Linked DNA regions of Homo sapiens: region 1 is linked to region 2. Evidence: fine-mapped expression QTL. Tissue or cell type: blood mononuclear cells. Region 2 holds a variant in brackets; the other region holds the start of a gene. All regions are shown on one strand. Distances are between the middles of the regions.

The links. PIP is the estimated chance that this variant, and not a neighbour inherited with it, causes the effect.
Region 1: CLOCK starts here. The variant in region 2 is fine-mapped to the expression of CLOCK in blood mononuclear cells (TOPMed, PIP above 0.99).

What each region holds. Positions count from the first base shown.
Region 1 is chr4:55,542,128-55,552,325 of GRCh38, forward strand. It overlaps CLOCK (clock circadian regulator), which reads right to left and starts at 4,782. Exons shown (of 23, transcript NM_004898.4): 1 at 4,655-4,782. It overlaps LOC124900704 (a long non-coding RNA gene), which reads left to right and starts at 3,738. Exons shown (of 2, transcript XR_007058122.1): 1 at 3,738-4,483; 2 at 5,489-5,762. RefSeq lists silencers at 3,778-4,407, 4,528-4,627, 4,688-5,057.
Region 2 is chr4:55,490,934-55,501,131 of GRCh38, forward strand. All of the region lies in intron 2 of CLOCK (clock circadian regulator), which reads right to left. Among named protein-coding and RNA genes, the nearest start is that of CLOCK, 51 kb to the right of the region's middle. RefSeq lists an enhancer at 8,529-8,823. The variant A/C (reference allele first, on the strand shown) is at 5,301.

The DNA of each region.
Region 1 (10,198 bases), 51 kb after region 2:
GTCAGCAGTTTGAGACCAGCCCGGCCAACATGGAGAAACACCGTTGTCTACTAAAAATACAAAAATTAGCCGGGTGTGGTGGCAGATACCTGTAATCCCAGCTACTCTTGGAGGGCTAAGGCAGGAGAATCGCTTGAACCAAGGAGGCGGAGGTTGCAGTGAGCTGAGATCACGCCACTGCACTCCAGCCCGGGTGACAGAGAGAGACTCTGTCTCAAATAATAATAATAATAATAATAATAATAATAATAATATTATTATTATTATTATTATTAATGTCTATGCTGTTTTAACCATACTAGATTTCAAAACCACTGAAGGCAGGGTCAATTATACTGCATCTTTCTAGGTATCTCCCATAGTAAATAGTCTTGATCAATACTCTGAACTTTTTGCAAACTCCATCAGCTAAAAAGAATTAAGGTTTGGTAATTCTTTGTAACCTGGTTTAAAACAAACCCTCTGGAACTATTAGAGAACCAGAGGGATGGATGGAGGAGAGGGTAGTGCATATTAGTTGTTTGTTGTCAGTTAAGCAAAAGCCAAACCAAAGAGCCTCTTCTCTCCTTTTCCCTTCAAAAGCTAAATTTTATCCAAGTCAGTATCAGTGTCCCTTAGTTAAGGACAGTCTGCTTAGGTTCACTTCAGAGGAGCTCAAGAGGCTGGTGTAATCTACGAGGCTTTCGTAGGAGTCTGCAAGCAAGTACAGAAGGAAAAAAAATCAAAGTTTAACCCATACACTATCGATCAAGTCAAAAGCCAAAGAAAACCCTAAAACTTGGACTCTAAAGAGTCCTATAAAATTCATGGAATCCAAGCACCTTTTGGGTTTGTTTTGTTTAAAACAGGGTGTCACTCTGTCACCAAGGCTGAACTCCTGGGTTCAAGTGATCCCTCCACCTCAGCCTCCCAATTAGCTGAAACTACGGTGTGCACCACCCCATCTGGCTAATTTTTTTTAAAAAAATTTTGTAGCAAAGAGGTCTCACTATGTTGCCCAGGCTGGTCCTGAAATCCTGGGCTCAAGCCATTCTCCCACCTCGGCCGCTCGAAGTTTACAGTGAATTAAATCTATACCAGATAAAACTCACATCAGTATGACCTCCCTTCAAACTCTGCAAATGCCTCCATAACAATTGGCCCCTCACTAGTGAAAAGATGAGTATGACCTATGGTCTATATCAGATGTTAAGCTTTCTGACAGGCTCCAAGTCATGTCCCTGTCCTGTAGGTAATAACAGAGCCCATACTGGAGGCAAAATGGCAAAGCAGATGATCATTCAAGATGATTCCGTTTTCAAGGCTGAAAAGAACATATTTGCAAATGCACAGAAAAAGATCTACAAGATCATACAGTGGTGTTAACAGTGTTACCCTTCAGTCAAGGGTATACGAGTAGCTGTGCTCCCTAGATTCCTCTGGGGAGGAATGTGAGCTAGAAGTGGATGTAAAGGGGTTGTCACTTATTATATATACACTGTATTAACTTTTTATGAGCATCAATTTACTTCTGTAATTTTAAAAATAAGAGTCCCAGCTACTCGGGAGGCTGAGGCAGGAGAATCTCTTGAACCTGGGAGCCGGAGGTTGCAGTGAGCCAAGATCGTGCCACTGCACTCCGGCCTGGTGACAGAGCAAGACTCCGTCTCCAAAAAAAAAAAAAATTGAAATGTAATTCCATTTTTAAAAAAGATTGAACGGACCCACATGGAATTCAAATGAAAAATAAGTGACACTTTGCAGAAGTCTATTAGAAAAACCTACATATCAAACAGAAATAATATAAGTATCCTATCCTACAAAATAAAAAGGAATACTGGTAATATTACAAAAATGCCCACAGCAACTGCAATCCATTACTCACTATTCACTACTTTCATTACACAATATTAGTCACCAGGGGGAGTTTGAGGGTCCCCTCCCAAAATTATATCTCATCTAACAGCTGCCTGTGCAGTCTTAACCTCATTAAACAGGTTTTCAACAATCCAGTCCTAAAAAAATGTTCATTTTGTACACTTTCATGAGAAACAACCAGACACACACACACACACACACACACACACACACACCCCAATTTACCTTTCACTGGGGTTCATGTTTGATTTCCTCAAAAGAAAGAAAAGTTTCCCAACCTGAAAAGCAAACTAACCTAGACAATCAAGTTTACTAGCACTTTAAGGGAATGTTCACATCCTCCTCATAATTGTTTGTCATGAAACTTTGGGGTTAAGTAAAATTTTACCCATCTATGACTCCTGAAAAAAAGAGGAGGGGGAAACACAAACTACACTCTGAAAGCAGCATAATCCAGCCATAATGCCAAATGTAAACAGTCATATATTTTAGCAAGGCAAGATATAACTAAACATCTTTAAAAGATAAATGCCTGTGACCTCTGCAATCTTAAAAATTAAAGTGTAAATAGTCATAAAAGGTATCCCAAACTTCCTTTTTAGTTGATTTTCCTAAAAAATATGAAAAGCAATCATATTGAAAATGACTCAAATCACCATAAATTAGGCAACAAAAATCACACAAATTATTTGGGGGAGGAGGATTTTTGTTTAATCCAGTTTATGAGTCCATAATACACACAAAAATTTGAAAACATGAAGACATACACATAATACATCTCATTTCCCACCATTCCCTCAGACTATTTCTCCCTCTCCTCTATTGTTAGTTTTCTAAATCCTCCCATAATTTCTTTATATAAAGAGCAAACATAAACTTGTATTATTACACCTCGCCCTTAAGATGTAACACACTATTCACAAAGTACCGCTACACCTTGCTTTTTTCACTTCATAGCAAATTTTTGCAATCTTTGCATGTTAGTACGTAGAAAGCTTCCTTATTCTTTTTTCATAACTGATTACGCCTAGCTTTAGAACATTTTCAGTCTGCTTTCTTCAGGCTAACTTTTTTTTTTTTTACTTTTTTTATTATTATACTTTAAGTTCTAGGGTACATGTGCACAACGTGCAGGTTTGTCACATATGTATAAATGTGCCACGCTGGTGTGCTGCACCCATTAACTCGTCGTTTACATTAGGTATTTCTCCTAATGCTACAGGCTAACCTTTCAAGACATTCTGTTCAGCCAACCACTTATCACAGGAATTAATTTCCTTCCCCCAAGCTTTGAAAACCAATCAGATTTGAGGTGTCCCAAGGGATAAGTTTCAGAGAAAGCAATTCATTATCTAAATTACATCCTTTTAAGAATGTTTATTTTCAAACAGGTAGAGGGGAATATTGCACAATTTTCTCTAATCGCTTAAAGCTACAAATCAGAACGCAATCTTCAAAGTGAAATTACCTTTGATTTGGGGGGATCAGCGTTATAGTCAAATCAACGACTGTAAAAGTTTACTTCTTGTGCTTTTCTTCCACTGTAAAAATTTTTTTATTTTTTAAAGAAGGCTAAAAAGCCTTAAAGTCTAATAGCACGGCATTCTAATAGCAGGAAACCACAATCTGATTTGATCTTTCATCTGCCAGGTCAGAGACTAGGCTTTTATCTTGCAGAATTAGGCTCACCTACCATCAACAAGAGGACCTCTACAAAGCTACAAACACTTTCAAAGAATATAAACTCTGCGGCGCTGCGTGTAGGAAATTACACTCCAGGGGCCAGAGCGCCAGAGCCAACTCCAGAAAACCCAGCTTCACTGGCGGAAAGAAATCTACAAACGCCAGCGGCGGTGACGGGGAACGGGAAGCGCGGGTGGACGGAAGAAGAGAAACCGAGCGCCTCGCCGCCAACCCTCGAACCCGCGCGCGGTCGCTGGAGTCAGACGCTAATAGCCGCGCGCTGCCTAGGAACGGAACCCCGGAACCACCACCACTAACGGAACCAGCCCGCGGCCGGCAACGGCGGCCGTTCGGACTGCGGACTGCGGCACGCGGGCCGGGCGCCGGGAGGGCGGGGGTTCCCCGGAGGAGCTGGCCGCCCCGGCGCCCCATTGGGCGCTGCTCCAAACGTGCCCGAGTGGTGACAGGAATAAAGTGGGTCACAAGGCCTAGCGGGTCCCCAGCGAAAGCTCTCTCGGCACCCGGTCCCCGTCTTTCCCCGCCTCCCAGCTGCTGGAATCGGCCGCAGCTCCGGGCGCCCTCAAGCCGCCCGGCCCCGCCGTGCACCCCACTCCCGCCCCTGCCCCGCAGGTAACCCCAGCTGCCCCAGAGGGCCTCTCAGGCAGGGCGGGCCTCGGCCCGAAGTCCCGGGAAAAGACACACTAGAACGACACGCCAAACTTGGGCTTCAGCTCCCGCCTTCCCCACCCTTGGCCGCCGCCCCCCGGCCCCACACACGCCGCCCCCCGCTCCCTCCCCTTCCCCGCGCCCTCACCGTGTGGCTTGCGGCGGCTCCGGCTTCTTCCCTCCCCCACCCAGGTCTCCCGCTGCGGTGACTCGGAACCACTACCCCGCCTGTGTCCAGGAGGCGCCGCGGCTCCCACCTCCAGCAGCACCTGGGGCTGTGAGTGGCGCCCCCCACCCACCCCCCCAAAAATTCGCCGCTCCTGTGGCCAGCTCCTCCTCCCCCTCCCTTCCCTTCCCCTCCTCCACCAGCCCAGGAGCGCGCATGCGCCGCCAAGGAAGCCAACCGGCACTCGGCAGGCCCTGGGCCCACCGGGCGGGCGCCTCTCACCGGGAGCGCTCGCGGCGGCGGCGGCCAGATTTCCTTCGCGCTCTCGCTCTCCGGGGTTTCCTTTTTTAAACCGGCAGCCGCAAGCCGAGTCCGTGATTGCGCCCCCTCCCGGCGCATGCGTCGTCAGCGACCCCGCGGGCTCAGACGGCCGGCGGAGGCTCTGCGCTCGCCCCTCCCCTCACTCTCCCTTTCCCCAGCGCGGCTCGGTGCGCATGCGACTTGCCCCGTTAGGCAGCACGGAGCCGCGCCAGGGGATCCCGGACGCCCGAAGAGACTCCCGCGCCCCTTGGGCCGAAATCTGGCTCTGCAGGCGCACCGTTCCCTGCCCCGGCCGGGAACGGCGCCGGTTACTAGAAAGCCGGGGAGGCGGGGCCTGGTCGGGTGGAGGGCGCGGCCGGCCGGCAGAGCGCTAGCCTTAGGTCCTGGAGGCTCTTTGGCTTTCCCCCCGTATGCCGGGGGCTAGGAGGAGGAAGAAGAGCTTCCTGCCGGATGAGGGATCCAGAGGCCAGAAAAGGAACCCGCTCTCCCTTCCAAAGCAAAACACTGCCGACGCCAGCTTAGATTTTTCGGGTGTTGGCAGGAGACTTTTTCCCCCAGTGGCATCATTCGTGTTTCCTCTCCTGGTGCTGGGAGAGAAGAGTTGCAAAGGCGCCTGGACCGCCAGTAACATCTTCTCCCATCTCCTGAGGGAGCGCGGCTTGGGTTGCTTCTTCTTGGTGGGTGGGCCTGGGGAGACAGGGCATGCGCCCTCGGCCAGAGGAGGGAAGCGAAAGGAGGTCGGGATTTATTTGCTCATTTGGAGATTTTTCCCTTGCCCTTTTATTAAAAATCAAGTGACAGTGTAATGGAAGATGGAGAATGAAGCATCAGAAATAAACCAGGACCCTAATTTGCATGGATTTCCTCGTTGGAACAACGTGTGACTACTACTTATCTTCGGGAAATTACTTATCTTGATGCGTTAAGGCACATTTGGTCCACATGAGAAAGCACATTTCAGTGCTTCTACTGGAAAAGAGATCTTTACAGTCTTAATTCCTAGTAATTCCTATGTTTTAATGAATATCTTTTGGATTTGAAATAAAAGCCATCTTTTTCTTTCAAAAAATGCACTTTTCTGGCCGTAAAATCCTCCCTTTAAAGTAACAGTCACCTCAGTAAACATTTTCAATTCTTGCTGTATGCTCTGGGCAAAAGAACATCAAACTGAAGCACTTATTCAGATCCTTGATCCTGCACCTAAGGATTTTTCTTTCAGGAGTGGGAAAACATGATTTGTTAATTTACCCCATCATATAGCAGAAGATATTTTGGTCGACATTTTTGCCTGTTCAGCATTCATTCCCTATTCTGATAATTTCTTTTGAAGAACTATCATTTATCCACTCTCAGTCCATATGGTCTGAGCAGGACACAAGGGGAAGGCATATTTGAGTTTAATCCTCGGTTGCAAACTACGGTTCCTAAGAAGGGTGTTACGTCTTTACCAATGGGTTTAAATCTGGGAGAATGGAGACCTGGAGCCATCTTTCCACACGTGAATTCTGAGAAAGAAGGCAACACGGAAAAAAAGCAGATTTGAAGACAGGTTTGGCCTAAAGACATGTTTGAGGCCTGGAAACAAATGTAGATTAGATTCCTCTGGAAATTTCGTTAAACCAGTCAGTAAATTCTTGCATCTGTTTTATTGCTTAAACCAGTGAGAGGTTTTCTTTCACATGTAATCAAGAGTCCCGACTGACAAGAGGTAGGTAGCAAGACGGAGGCAAAGTTATTAATACTGATAAGGTAGGTTGCAGCCAGACAAGAGAGGGCTTGAATGCTTTCCCTAGGATGGATTTTTGAATTTTATTCTAGAGACACTGATCCCTCCTTATATTCCCCATCATCTAGAACATATTATCTTCAAAATACCTTTGCCCTTTTTAATGATTTCATTGTCCTCTCAGTCACCAAGATCAAACCATGTCCATCTTTGACTCCTCCCTCTTTCACTGTATTTAATTATTTACCAAGACCTGTTGATAATCCCCCGTTTTTCTGCTCAGTCCTCTCTCACTGCTTGAACATTTCCCATGGTTCAGTTCACAGCTTCTCCTTTCTCCCACATTCTCTCCAAGAAAAGAAAAAATGTACTGGATATGTCTTTTTTTTGAGACAGATTTTTTGAGACAGAGTCTTGCTCTGTTGCCCAGCTGGAGTACAGTGGCATGATCTCAGCTCACTGAAACCTCTGCCTCCCGGGTTCAAGCAATTCTTGTGCCTCAGCCTTCCAAGTAGCTGTGATTACAGACTCCCACCACCACACCAGCTAATTTTTGTATTTTTAGTAGAGATGGGGTTCCACCATGTTGGCCAGGCTGGTCTTGAACTCCTGGCCTCAAGTGATCCACCCACCTCAGCCACCCAAAGTGCTGGGATTAACAGGCGCGAGCCACTGTACCCAGCCTGTATTGGATATTTCCAATAGCTTTTCCAACTTCCAGATCCCACATTTCCATAAAACAAAAATCCTGCCTCATAATTTCATAGCTCCTAAATTTATATTCCATAGCCTTAAACATAATTTCAGATATTCTGTTCACCCTTTCTTGTGAACCTTGCTATCATTTAAACTGAGTATTTCCAACTCCTCTGTCAACTGATTTCCCCCAGTTGGTAGGCAACGTATCATAGTGGTTAAGAGTACAAAATTAGGATCTTAACTGCCTGGATTTAAATCATAGCTTCACCACTAATATTCTGCATGACTTTAAGCAAGTTATTTCTCTGTTCTTTAATTTCGTCATCTTTAAAATGGGATAATTACAATCCTATCTCATAGCTTAACCGAGACAGTGTGTGTGTCTGTGTGTGTGTAATTTTATCTGGTACATAAGAAATCCCATAGAAATGTTGGCTATTCTTGTCAATGATGTTCCTTTTTGGGTAATTTTCATGTCTCTTTTGCTCTAATTCTTGCCCTAACTCCTATGTCCCATCAGTCACAAAGTCATATCTGTTCTTTCATAGTAACTCATCCATTCATTGACATTCCTAGTTTTACTACCATACTTTAAGGTGAATTGGAGAACAGGAAGCTTTAAGATATGCTTAATAGAGAATATAAGGTTAAGTATTTTTTTAAAGCTTGCATAGTTTATTCAGTTACTCATATTCTTTCTAATCCCTTTAAAATGGAACTACAAAACCCTGCCTCATAGTTGAGGTAGTATTATAGACTTTGTGGTCAAAACTCTTGGCTTAAATTCTGACTCATGCTGAGAGATAGTGAGCAAATCAAGTAATTCCTCTGAGCTTCAGGTACTTATCTGTAAAGTTACAAGACTAGGCATTTCAGAGAACTGTGATGATCAAAGGTAAATTAAACTGCTACATAAAGGCTAGGTGGTGACGATGGTGGTTGTAAATCTTTACAATTTCTTGTTGGAACCCTAAGAATAGTTGAAATGACTCACAGATTTTTAACTCCAGCCTTCACTTCTCCCTTGGGCTCTATACACACGTCTGTTTATCTACCTGATGTCTCTTCTTCTGTATCACAAATATCTTGGATGCTTCTTTCAATCTATTCTCCACAGAGCAGTCAAATTATTTTGAAAATATAAGTGAAGTCACATTATTTTCTTCTAAAACCCCTTTTGTCATTTCCCATTACATACAAATTCCTAATTATGGTCACAATAACCTGTTTGATCTGGCCCCTCCCTACCTCTCCAACCTCATGTCTTACCATTTTTTTCCTTTTCCTGTGACACTCCAACCCAGAAACTGCCTTTCATTTCTTTGCTAATTTATCTCTGCTCTCAGGCTTTCATGCATGCTGTGCCCTTGCCTGGACCCCTCCTACCTTTTCTCATGGCTGGCTCCTTCTCAACCATCACATCTCAAAGATCTAACTACCCTATTTAAGTAGGTCTCCCTCCAACACCCCACCTGCCCCCCCACCACCAATAATATCCAAAGTTATTCTCTTCTGTTGTGTCCAGTTTCCCCCATAATACTTAAGTTTAAATTATGTATATATTAGTTATATGTATATATGATATTTGTTTTCTTATTAACTATTTTCCCTACCACCACAAGATAAACTCCAGAAGGGCGAGAACCATGTGTTTTCTTTGCCACTATACGTGTAGCATCCATTTCAATACCTCAGGTGAGCTGGGTAGAGTGACACGTACATGTAGTTCCAGCTGAGCCGGGAGGATTGCTTGAGCCCAGGAGTTAAGGAACAGCCTGGGCAATGTAGCAAGACCCCATCACTAAAATAAATTAATTAAAATTTAAAAATAAAAACCAGGTTGGGTGTGGTACCTCAAGTCTGTAATCCCAGCACTTTGGGAGGCCAAGGCAGGCAGATCACTTGAGGTCAGGAGTTTGAGACCAGCCTGGCCAACATGGTGAAACCCTGTCTCTACTAAAAAATACAAAAAAATTCGCCAGGTGTGGTGGTGCATGTCTATAGTCTGAGGCTTAGGCAGGAAAATCACTTGAACCTGGGAGGCAGTATCTGCAGTGAGCCCAGTTCGTGCTGCTGCACTCCAGCCTGGGTGACAGAGCAAGAGTCAGTCGAGGCAGGATAATCACTTGAACCTGGGAGGCAGAGGCTGCAGTAAGCCCAGATCGTGCTGCTGCACTCCACCCTGGGTGACAGAGCAAGTCTGTCTCAAACAAACAAAACCACCAATGCCTGAGGTGAATGAATGATTTAATGAGTGAATGAAATGCCAGAAAGATGATTTTTAGAATCATCTTTGTCCCAAATTATGACTGTAGGCAGATTATTGTCAAGGGGTAGCCTTAGTAATGTGCATGAAAGTGTGTCCGGAATTTATTCCTTCCGGTGGGTTCCTGGTCTCACTGACTTCAAGAATGAAACCATGGACCCTTGCAGTGAGTGTTACAGCTCTTAAAGATGGTGTGTCTGGAGTTTGTTCCTTCAGATGTTCAGATGTGTCCAGAATTTCTTCCTTCCAGTGGGTTTGTGGTCTTGCTGACTTCAGGAGTGAAGCCGCAGACTTTTACAGTGAGTGTTACAGCTCTTAAAGGTGGTGTGTCCGCAGTTTGTTCCTCCTGGTGGGTTCATGGTCTCGCTCACTTCAGGAATGAAGCTGCAGACCCCCACAGTGAGTGTTACAGCTCATAAAGGTAGTGTGGACCCAAACAGTGAGCAGCAGCAAGAGTTATTGTTAAGAGTGAAAGAACAAACCTTCCGCAGTGTAGAAGGGGGGGCCGAGCAGGTTGCTGCTGCTGGATTGGGTGCCAGCTTTTATTCCCTTATTTGGCCCCGCCCACATCCTGCTGATTGGTCCATTTTACAGAGCACTGATTGGTCCATTTTACAGAATGCTGATTGGTCCATTTTACAGAGTGCTGATGGTGCGTTTACAATCCTTTAGACACAGAGTGCTTTAGACATAGAGTGCTGATTGGTGTGTTTACAATCCTTCTTAGCTAGACACAGAATGCTGATTGGTGCGTTTTTACAGAGTGCTGACTGGTGCATTTACAATCCTTTAGCTAGACACAGAGCGCTGATTA
Region 2 (10,198 bases):
CTAATAGGGCACAGAACAAGTTTTAACAAATTTAAGGTTGAATTATACTAAATATCTTCTCTGATCACAGTGAAATGTCAGAAGGAAAACTAGAAAATTCATAAGCAGATGAAATTTAAACACACTGTTGAATAACCAAAGAGTCAAGGAAGACATCAAAAGAGAAATTAGAAAACATCTTGAGACAAACGAAAACACAACATACCAAAATGTATGGGATGCAGCAAAAGTGTTCTGACAGGGAATCTTATTTCAGTCAATGACTGCATTAAAAATGAAGAAAGATTCCTGCAGGTGTGCTAAAAAAAAAAAAAAAAAAAAAAAAGGAAAGATCTCAAACAATGCAACTTTATACCTCAAAGAACTAGAAAAAGAAGAACAAAGCCCATAGAGAGCAGAAGGAAGGAAATATGATTAGAGTAGAAATAAAACAGTGAATAGGAAAAAAAAAAAATCAACAAAACTAAGAGTTGTTTCTTTGAAAAGACTAACAAAATTGACAAATCTTTAGCTACACTAGGAATAAGAGAAGACTCAAAATCAGAAATAAAAGGAGAAATTACAACTGATGTCACAGAAATAAAAAAGTATTTTTTTGAGACAACTCAATAAATATACACCAACAAATTAGATAACCTAGAAAAAATGGATAAATTCCTAGAAATATGCCATCTACCACGAAGGCTGAATCATGAATAGAAAAATGTGAACAGAGTTCACAGCAGATTTATTCATAATGGTCTAAAACTATAAACAATCCAGATGTTCATTGACAGTACAATGGATAAACAAAATGTGGTATTCATATAATGGAATGCTATACAACAAAGAGAAGACTGCATGCAACAGCACAGATGACTTTACAAGAGAGTACATAGTTTTTTTAAGAATAGACAAATTAATCAGTAAGTCAGAATGATAAAATAAAAAAAGAAAATCTGAGCAGACACATATAACTTGTAATTATATTGAATCAAAAACTTCCCAATGAAGAAAAGCCAGGACCATATACATGACTTCACTGAAGAATTCTACCAAACACTGAAAGAATTAATACCAATCCCCCTCAAATGCTTCCAACAAACTGAAAAGGGAACATTTTCAAACTCTTTATGAAGCCAGCATTATGCTGATATCAAAGCCAAAGACACCATAAGAAAAAAACTATAGACCAATATTCCTTATGCATATTGATGAAAAATTCTCAACAAAATACTACCAATCCAAACGCAACAGTAAATTAAAAGGATTATACCACATGACCAGGTGGTATTTATCCCTGGGATTTGAGCAAGGTTCAACATATATTAATAAAACCAATCCATGTGCTACACCACATCAACAAAACCAAGGATAAAAATCGTATGAGGGATCTCAATTGATGCAGAAAAAGCATTTAACAAAATCCAACACCTATTCATGATAAAAAAAAAAAACGCCATTCAACAAACTAGGAATAGAAGGAATTTATAAACCAAGAAAAGGAGGAATTTCTCTTTCTTAAAAAATAAATTGGTTTGAAAATTATGCCCTTTGACTCAGTAATTTCACTTTGAGAAATAATAAAATAATCAAAGATGCATCTAAACTTTTATATTCATTGAGATATTATTAAAAATAATAAAGCTAGGCCAGTCACAGTGGCTCATGCCTGTAATCCTAGCACTTTGGGAGGCTAAGGTGGGTAGATCACTTGAGGTCATGAGTTCAAAAACAGCCTGGCTAATATGGTGAAACCCCATCTCTACTACAAATATAAAAATTAGCTGGGCATGGTGGCACACGCCTGTAATCCCAGTTACTCGGGAGGGTGAGGCAGGAGAATCGCTTGAACCCAGGAAGCGGAGGTTGCAGTGAGCCGAGATAGCGCCACTGCACTCTGACCTGGGTGACAGAGCGAGATTCTGTCTCTAAAAAAAATAAAATAAAATAAAAACAGTAAAGCTAGAACAAATTTAAATGTCTAACTGCATTAACAGTGGCATGAAAATATATCAGACATAAACCTGAATATAGCAAAAGTATCAACTGTGATTGCTCCTAGGTAGTTTATGGATGGTGTTTTTTGTTCTTTCTTTAGTACTTTCTAAAATTTCTCCCATGAACATGCATTACTTTTATAATCAGAAAGCTTAAGTGCTGCATTTTTTTTCTTTTTCTTTTAATTGTCCAATACTAGAGGCCTAGCTATACATGAGGAGGCAAATAAGATAAAACACAACCTGTTATCTATTCCAGAGAACAAAAACTTAACAGAGACTATTTTTCTAGCCATTTAAAGAAAACAAAGTTTCATCTAGTTAATAATTTTAAAATTATTAATTAAAAATGGCTAACTCAGGAATTTGAATTTTAAAAATTAAAACTACAGTTTTTCCCTAACCTAATAACCTACTGACCCACTGACCTACTTTGGAATTTAGGTTTGTTAATTCTGATACCACAGGTATTTCGGGAACTGACGGATCTATTAACATTAATTAAAAGTAGTGCTGAAATTTAATTGACCGGTATAATACAAAACCTAAGGAACAAACCTTAACTACTTTTATTACCACTTATGAAAAATTCTAACTTGCTTCTGCAGATTACTGATTTTGTATTATAACTGAAACAGTAATTATTTCTAAGAGAAAAACTATTTTAACTTGCAAAGAAAGGCCCAAATATTTAATACTTTTTAGATTCGTTGTTTAATGTACGAGGAAAAAATGAAATTAAACAGTGGTTCTCAATTTATTCAATATTGAATGTATTAGCCACCTCTACAACCGATATAAGATATTGGCAAAATAAAACACATATTTGGTTTTACAGCTATCTCTACAATCAATTTAAATTTGAAAACTGACCTGTAAGAATAAGAACCACATCCCAAACCAGTTTTATGAACCAGACCTCTTAAAACCAGAGAGGATTCTGGCTCAAGACAAACATCAACTGACACTATAACTCTAGCCTGCTGAATGTCAAGATGTAAGATATTCACTAAACCTCATTAAATAAACAAAAACTAAAAAATTAATACAGTTCTCTTAGTGGGACAATACTATTCCAACGATTCAACTAATATATATTTTTCAAGTAATGTCTGAGCTTTGTATTCATATAACAGACTGATCTTGCCCACAGAGTATAGGAGCACCTTATCCCCTTTTCAGAGATAAGACTAAGGCCTACATCTGTCCTCAGCCCCAAGTAAGCCCCACATAAAACCTGAAGGTGGAGGGAGAGCACAAGCCTCAGAATGAATTTCACATGTAATCAGGTACCATAAACCTGAAGCTATACGACTCTACACCTGGCCTTCATCCTGACACCAGCAGGAAGAAAGAGGGAGCCCTGTGGTAGGCAGAATAACAGCCTCCGAAGAATGTCCATTCCCTCTTCCCTGGACCTTATGAAGATGTTATGTCACATGGCAAAAAAGGACACTGCAGATGTGATTAAGGATAAGGATCTTGAGATGTGGAGATTATCCTGCATTATCCAAGTGGGTCCAAAATAATCACGTGAGTTCTTAAGAGGAAAGGACCTTTCCTAGCTGTGGTTTGATATATCAGAAAGAACGGTCAAAAAGATGGCAAGTTAAAGGCATAAGAATGATACAATGGACCATGGGGACTCGGGGAGAAGGGAAGGATAGGAGGGGGGATGAGGGATAAAAGACCATACATTGGGAACAGTGCTCAGGTGATGGGTGCACCAAAATCTCAGAAATCACCACTAAAGAACTTATCCATGTAACCAAACACCCCCTGTTCCCCAAAAACCTACTGAAATGATAATTCTTTTAAAAAGATGCAAAGTTGCTGGCTTTGAAAGTGAAAGAAGGTGGCCACAAGCCAAGGAATTCAGGTAGCCTCTACAAGCTGGAAAAAACAAGGAAACAGATTTTCTCCTGAAGCCTCCAGAGAGAAATGCAGCCCGCTGACACCTTGGGTTCAGGTCAGTGAGATTTGTGTTGGCCTTCTGAGCTGCAGAACTGTAAAACAATAAATTTGTATTGTCTTAAGCCATTAAGTTTGTGGTTATTTGTATGGTAGCAACAGAAAACTATACAGAATCCGGTTTCTCTCGATAAACCTGGCTCTCACCAACACTTCCCTTTCAGTATTTACAGCAACCTGCATAGGAGATCATCAAAGAGAATCCCATTATGCCCTCCATTCTTTTTACATCAGTCAACAAGAAATGCCCAAGACTCCCAAGTCATCCCCCATCCCTATATACTTTCATCCCTATATACTCTGTATGTCCCTACACTGACCCCTTTTCTCTTCCTCCCCCAATTCCCGAAATCCTTTCGCAGTGTCTTCTGGAACTCATGGTACACATCGTCGTTAAAATATCCTATTTCCTCAGTATTGTTGTTGCACACTCTTCACCTTACTTGCTCCCAGCTGTAACCTCTCTCCCCTCTGGGAGTTCTGCTCTAACTCCAGCCCTTTCAAACAATGGCTTCTCTCTCATGTGAGATAAAATATATTTACTCTCCCATATCTCAGATGACCAAGCCCTGTTGGTGGGGTGAACTTCCTTGTAACTCACTGTCATTTCTGAATTATTCTCTCCCTCCCTAAAACCTTAGCTTTGACTCTCATGCCACCAGACTACATCAGCTATTATCCCCTCCTTATTGTAGTCATTCACAAACCCCAGGATAAGCCCCTTCACTCCACGAAGGGTGTGACCCTCTCCAATACCTCTTTTGAATTTCAATGTACACAAAATGATCCCCCAAAACTGGCCAGTGAGTTCCTTGATCTCTTCTGCAACAATTTTGTGTTCCACCCCACCTCCCACTCATTCTGCTAGTGTTACCCCAGAATTCACCATTACTAATATCCAAAAGACCCTCCGTATCCTCAATTTTAAGCATCTAAGCCCTCTCTCACAAACTGGGATAGCATGTGATCCACCTGATGCAAAAAGACAAAAAACACAAACTTTTTTTAAAAAAACAAAAAAACTGCTGGGCGCAGTGGCTCACACCTGTAATCCCAGCACTTTGGGAGGTCAAGGTGGGTGGATCACCTGAGGTCAGGAGTTCAAGACCAGCCTGGCCAACATGGTGAAACCCCGTCTCTACTAAAAATACAAAAATTAGCCGGGCGTGGTGGCAGGCGCCTGTAATCCCAACTACTTGGGAGGCTAAGGCAGGAGAATCGCTTGAACCCGGGAGGTGGAGGTTGCATTGAGCCAAGATTGCTCCACAGCACTCCATCCTAGGTGACAGAGCGAGAGGTCGTCTCAAAAAAAAAAGAAACAATCAAAAAACAAAAACAAAAAAACTGACA[A/C]TATAGCTCTAACTTATTTATGTTGGGTCTTTAAAAAGAAAAAAAAAACTGTGCCAGCTCATAATCTTTGTTGGAGCCTCAGTTTCTCTTCCTAGTAAAGGCACAAGGGAGTAAAGCAAGTTTATTTGACATGGTCGGGAAGACTAAACATAGTGACAGTCAATGATTGGTTATGTTGTTAATTACCTTCTATGAGAAATGCTTCATTCTTTTTCATGTTTCTCTAAACTCTAGCCTTCCTTTTGACCACTGAGTCCTTTATACACTTATCATATTGATAAGCTATTCTGTGGCAAAATGTAATGATTGCTTACCACTTTAATATAGTTCAAGTTGTGCTGACTATAAAAACTTTTTAAAATTCCAATTTACAGTATTTACTAACACAAACACATATAATGCAAATAATGAAAAACTTGTTCAGGGCTCTAAGGCTTCTGAAGATTATTTATCACATTCCAAGACACCAATTTTCCTTTCTAGCTTTAGTCTTATTTCTCCTTCCTCATTTCCCATTCTACTTTACTGTACACAGACTCCTTATTCTCCAGCTACACTAAGGAATCACGTCACCATTCCTAGATAGTAGAAAATAAAGACCTCTACGTAAAACAAAGGTTTGTCCACCAGTACCCAATATATTATCAACATAAATATCTTAATACAATAAACTGGAATTGACCTTCACAGAAAATCATATTGTCATTCACATCAAGATTCAACTAATCATGATATAAACTTTATGTTATTAGTGAAAAACTGAAGAGGTACTATGTGCTTCCTATGGCCTCTATAAAAATTATCACAAAGTTAATGGATTAAAACAACACAAATTTACTATCTTACAGTTCTGTTGGTGAGAGCCCAATATAGGTCTCACTGGGCTAAAATCAAGGTGGGCTAAAACCGAGGTGTTGGCAGGGCTGAATTCCCTCCTGTAAGCTCTAGCAGAGAATGTTTCCTTGCCTTTTCAAGCTTTAGAGGCCACCCGTATTCTTTAGCTCATAGCTCCCTCTACTCCATCTTCAAGCCAGCAGGAGGCCAAGTCCTTCTCGGGCTGCCATTTCTTCTGCCTCTTTCTTCCCTTATTACATTAAGCCCACATAGATAATCTAAGATAACCTCCATATTTTATGGTTAACTGATTAGCAACCTTAATTATTCCTTGCCATGTACCCTAACATAGTGGCAGGTTCCAGGAATCAGGATATGAACCTCTCTGAAGGGTCAGTATTCTGCCTACCACGTACCATGGACCAAAAAGTCTCTGTTTGGCAAAGACAAAATCAAATATTTTTTGAGGGGAAAGGTGAAACATCAAAGGATAATTTGATCTATTAATAGATAAAAGACTACAGTACTATGCCAGTAGTTCTTAACTTCTGAACTATCTTAACCTTTCATATTTCTTAAAGGGAATTGGAAAATAATGTGTATGACAATTCAGGCTGCATGCGTTCAACTGTAACTAAAGTCTAACTTTATTGCTATATGGTAGCAACAGGCTCTAGGGATATTCTTCTGAACGGAAAAATCTGTCAATGTCCAAATGAATACTAGCACATATTTCCCCTTTTGGAAAACTAATTGTTACACCATAAACACATATGATGTAATTTATATGCACTAAACAGATTGTCCAAAAAAGATGAATTAAACCCCAGACTTTGTAGAAGCCTATTTTTTAAAAGGGCAAATGTATATAGATTTCTGAGATGGATCTCCAGAAAAAAAAAAAAGAGATACAGAATTTTAGCAACCTAAAAGAAGTACAGAATTTCATTAGTACTATAAATCCTCTAGGGACCTCTTAGGAAATCGGATTATTAAGTAGTACTTTGACAATGCTAGGTTTAGAGCTAATTCATGAGTTGTTTAATAACATACAACTAATATGTATAAATATAATGACAATGTTTGACATATTATGTACTACATCTATGAGGTCACCAGAGCCACTTAAAACACCACCAAAAAATGCATCAATTTTCAAGGCCACAAGTATTCCCCTTTGTGCAATAATCATTTCACTGAAAAGACAGTTGTTTTGACTTATTAAAACTCGGGTAAACTGCCAGCTGCTTTTGTGTAGCCAAGTAGGCCCGGCAAATTCAAAATCATCTGAAAAGTATTTCAAAGAAGTTTAGATGCATCCTGAACCACAGATAATTCAGAAAAAAACTACCATAAAGCATGTCTTCTTCACTAAAATAATCATTATATCTAAGTTTATATTTAGGAAAAAATGTAATCCCTTTGAACTAGAAGATTTTGCAATATATAATTTATACATATGTTACCCATTTCTGCTTTTCTGTCCCTATTTACTTTCAAAGCTTTCAAATTTAAAAAATTGATCTATCTAGTTCCTTATTATTATTATTATTATTATTTTAACCCACTGACTGTTTGATCCTTACCCTAAAATGACAAGGTGTGGAAAATGGCAGGCCAAGACCATATCTCAATCTGTGGAGTGGCAGGGGAGATGGGGCTCAAACTGCATAGGTCTTTGCATCACGTAAGTAGGAGTAAATATAGGATAAATGAGGACGTGTAGGTAGTACAAGAATCCACCAGCCAGAAGGCCTGTGACCAGGTTTCACAGAATCCAACATGGACATAACAAGTATATTATAGAACAGACATATACTCTTGATACAGAAGACACGAGATCTGATGGGATTTCTACTGATTCATCTTTAAGCTCACTGACTCTTCTGTCATCTCCATTGTTACTGAGCCCATGCAGTACATCTGTATTTCATATATTGTATTTTTCAGCTCTGAAATTTCCATTTGATTATTTCATATAGTTTTTATTTTTCAGAGAACTATTTTTACACTCCTTTCAGAAGTGTTCACTTTTACCTCATGAACATGAGTACTTTAAGGCTTTTTTCTGATAATTCCATCATCTGGATCATCTCAGAGTTGTCAACTGGCTTATGTTCTTTTTCCTTTAAAAATGGTCAGATTTTACTGTTTCTTTGTATGTCAAGTAATTTTGGATCATATCCTGGACATTCTAGATATTAAGTTATGAGATTCTAGGTTCCATTAACATCCTCTAAAGCAGCAGTCCTCAACCTTTTTGGCACCAGCGACTGGTTTCATGCAATACAATTTTTCCATGGACAGCGGGGATGGTTTCTGGACAAAACTGTTCCACTTCAGATCATCACACTTGTTAGGGATGGTTTCTGGACAAAACTGTTCCACTTCAGATCATCACACTTGTTAAGTTAGATTCTCATAAGGAGCATACAACCTAGATCCCTTGCACTCGCAGTTCACTGCAGGGTTCACGCTCCTATGAGAATCTAATGCTGCTACTGATATGACAGGAGGCGGAGCTCAGGCGCTAATGCTCACTAGCCAGTCACCTACCTCCTGCTGTGCGGCCTGGTTCCTAACAGGCCACAGTACCAATCGTTGTTTCAGTTTTCAAAGCGTTCACAATGCTGCTTAAATCTATCCTCCGCATGCATCTCTCAGGGGCAACTCTGGGATTTGAGCAGTGGTTTACACCATAGTTCAGCTCTCTAGGTCTTTGCCATGTTTCTTTCGCTCTGTTCCATGTACGTGTAGCTCATGGATGCAGTAGGTAGGACCTTTGTGTGTTCATACATGCAATTAGGGAATCTCCCCCCAAACTAGGTGTCTTCTCTTTGAGACTTCCAAAGCATGCTCCAGCTTCCAGAGTTCTCTTTCCCAATTCCTCTGGCCAGAGAGACGGCTTTCTTCTTGGGATTTTAAGTACATATACCACTATGGCAATGTAATTTTACAAATGGAGATGGTCTCAGGGCACAGCTGGGAGAGAAAAAAAGGGGGGAATTTTCTTTGTCCTATGACTAGAAATAAAGGGTTTCTCTTGGAGTTTTTGCTAACTGCTGCACTCAACATGTACTTCTACAACCCAGCCTACCATTTGGTTAAAGCTGGATAACAAAAAGAAAAAAAAAATGGTAAGCTAAGCACTACACAAGCTATTCAGGTTTTGACTTCCCTTCTCAGTTTGCCTATTACTGTTTACTTTCGAAAGTCTTCAGATAATTGTTTTTGTTTCTATCTAGAGGGTTTTTGTTGTTGTTTTTGTTTTGTTTGGGGGGAGTGGTGTGTTTTGAGATAGGGCCTCACTCTCTCACCAAGGCTGCAGTGCAGTGGTGTGAACACAGCTCACTGCAGCCTCGACCTCCTGGGCTCAAGCAATTCCCTGCCTCAGCCTCCCAATGTAGCTGGGATTACAGGTACACACCATCATGCCCTATTGATTTTTAACTTTTTAATTTTTTGCAGAGACAAGATCTCATTATGTTGCCCAGGCTGGTCTCTAACTCCTGGGCTCAAGCAATCCTCCTGCCGTGACCTCCCAAATTGCTGGGATTAAAGGCATGAGCCATAGCATCGGCCTAACCGGGGTTTTAAGTTCTAATCAGAGAGGCTTACTCCACTTTTGCCTATCCATTATGTTTTATCCATTTCCCAATTAAATTTCACCTAATGGCTTTAGTAGTCACGACTAATTGTTATCTAGAATCATTATTTCATTAGGAGTATGCACTGTGGTGAGTTTGTAAGCCGATCGTTCTCCAGTGTTTCTGTTTGTTTGTCTGTTTTTGCGCTTGTTTTTGAGACAGGGTCTTATTCTGTCACCCAGGCTGGAGTGCAGTGGCACAATCTCAGCTCACTGCAGCCTCGATCTCCTGGGTTCAAGTGATCCTCCTGCCTCAGCCTCCTCAGCAGCCGAGACTACAGGCATGCACCACCATGCCTAGGGCTAATTTTTGTGTTTTTAGAAGAGACGAGGTCTTGCTATGTTGCCCAGGCTGATCTCAAACTACTGAGCTCAAGCAATCCTCCCACCTCAGCCTGCCAAAGTGTTTGGATTACAG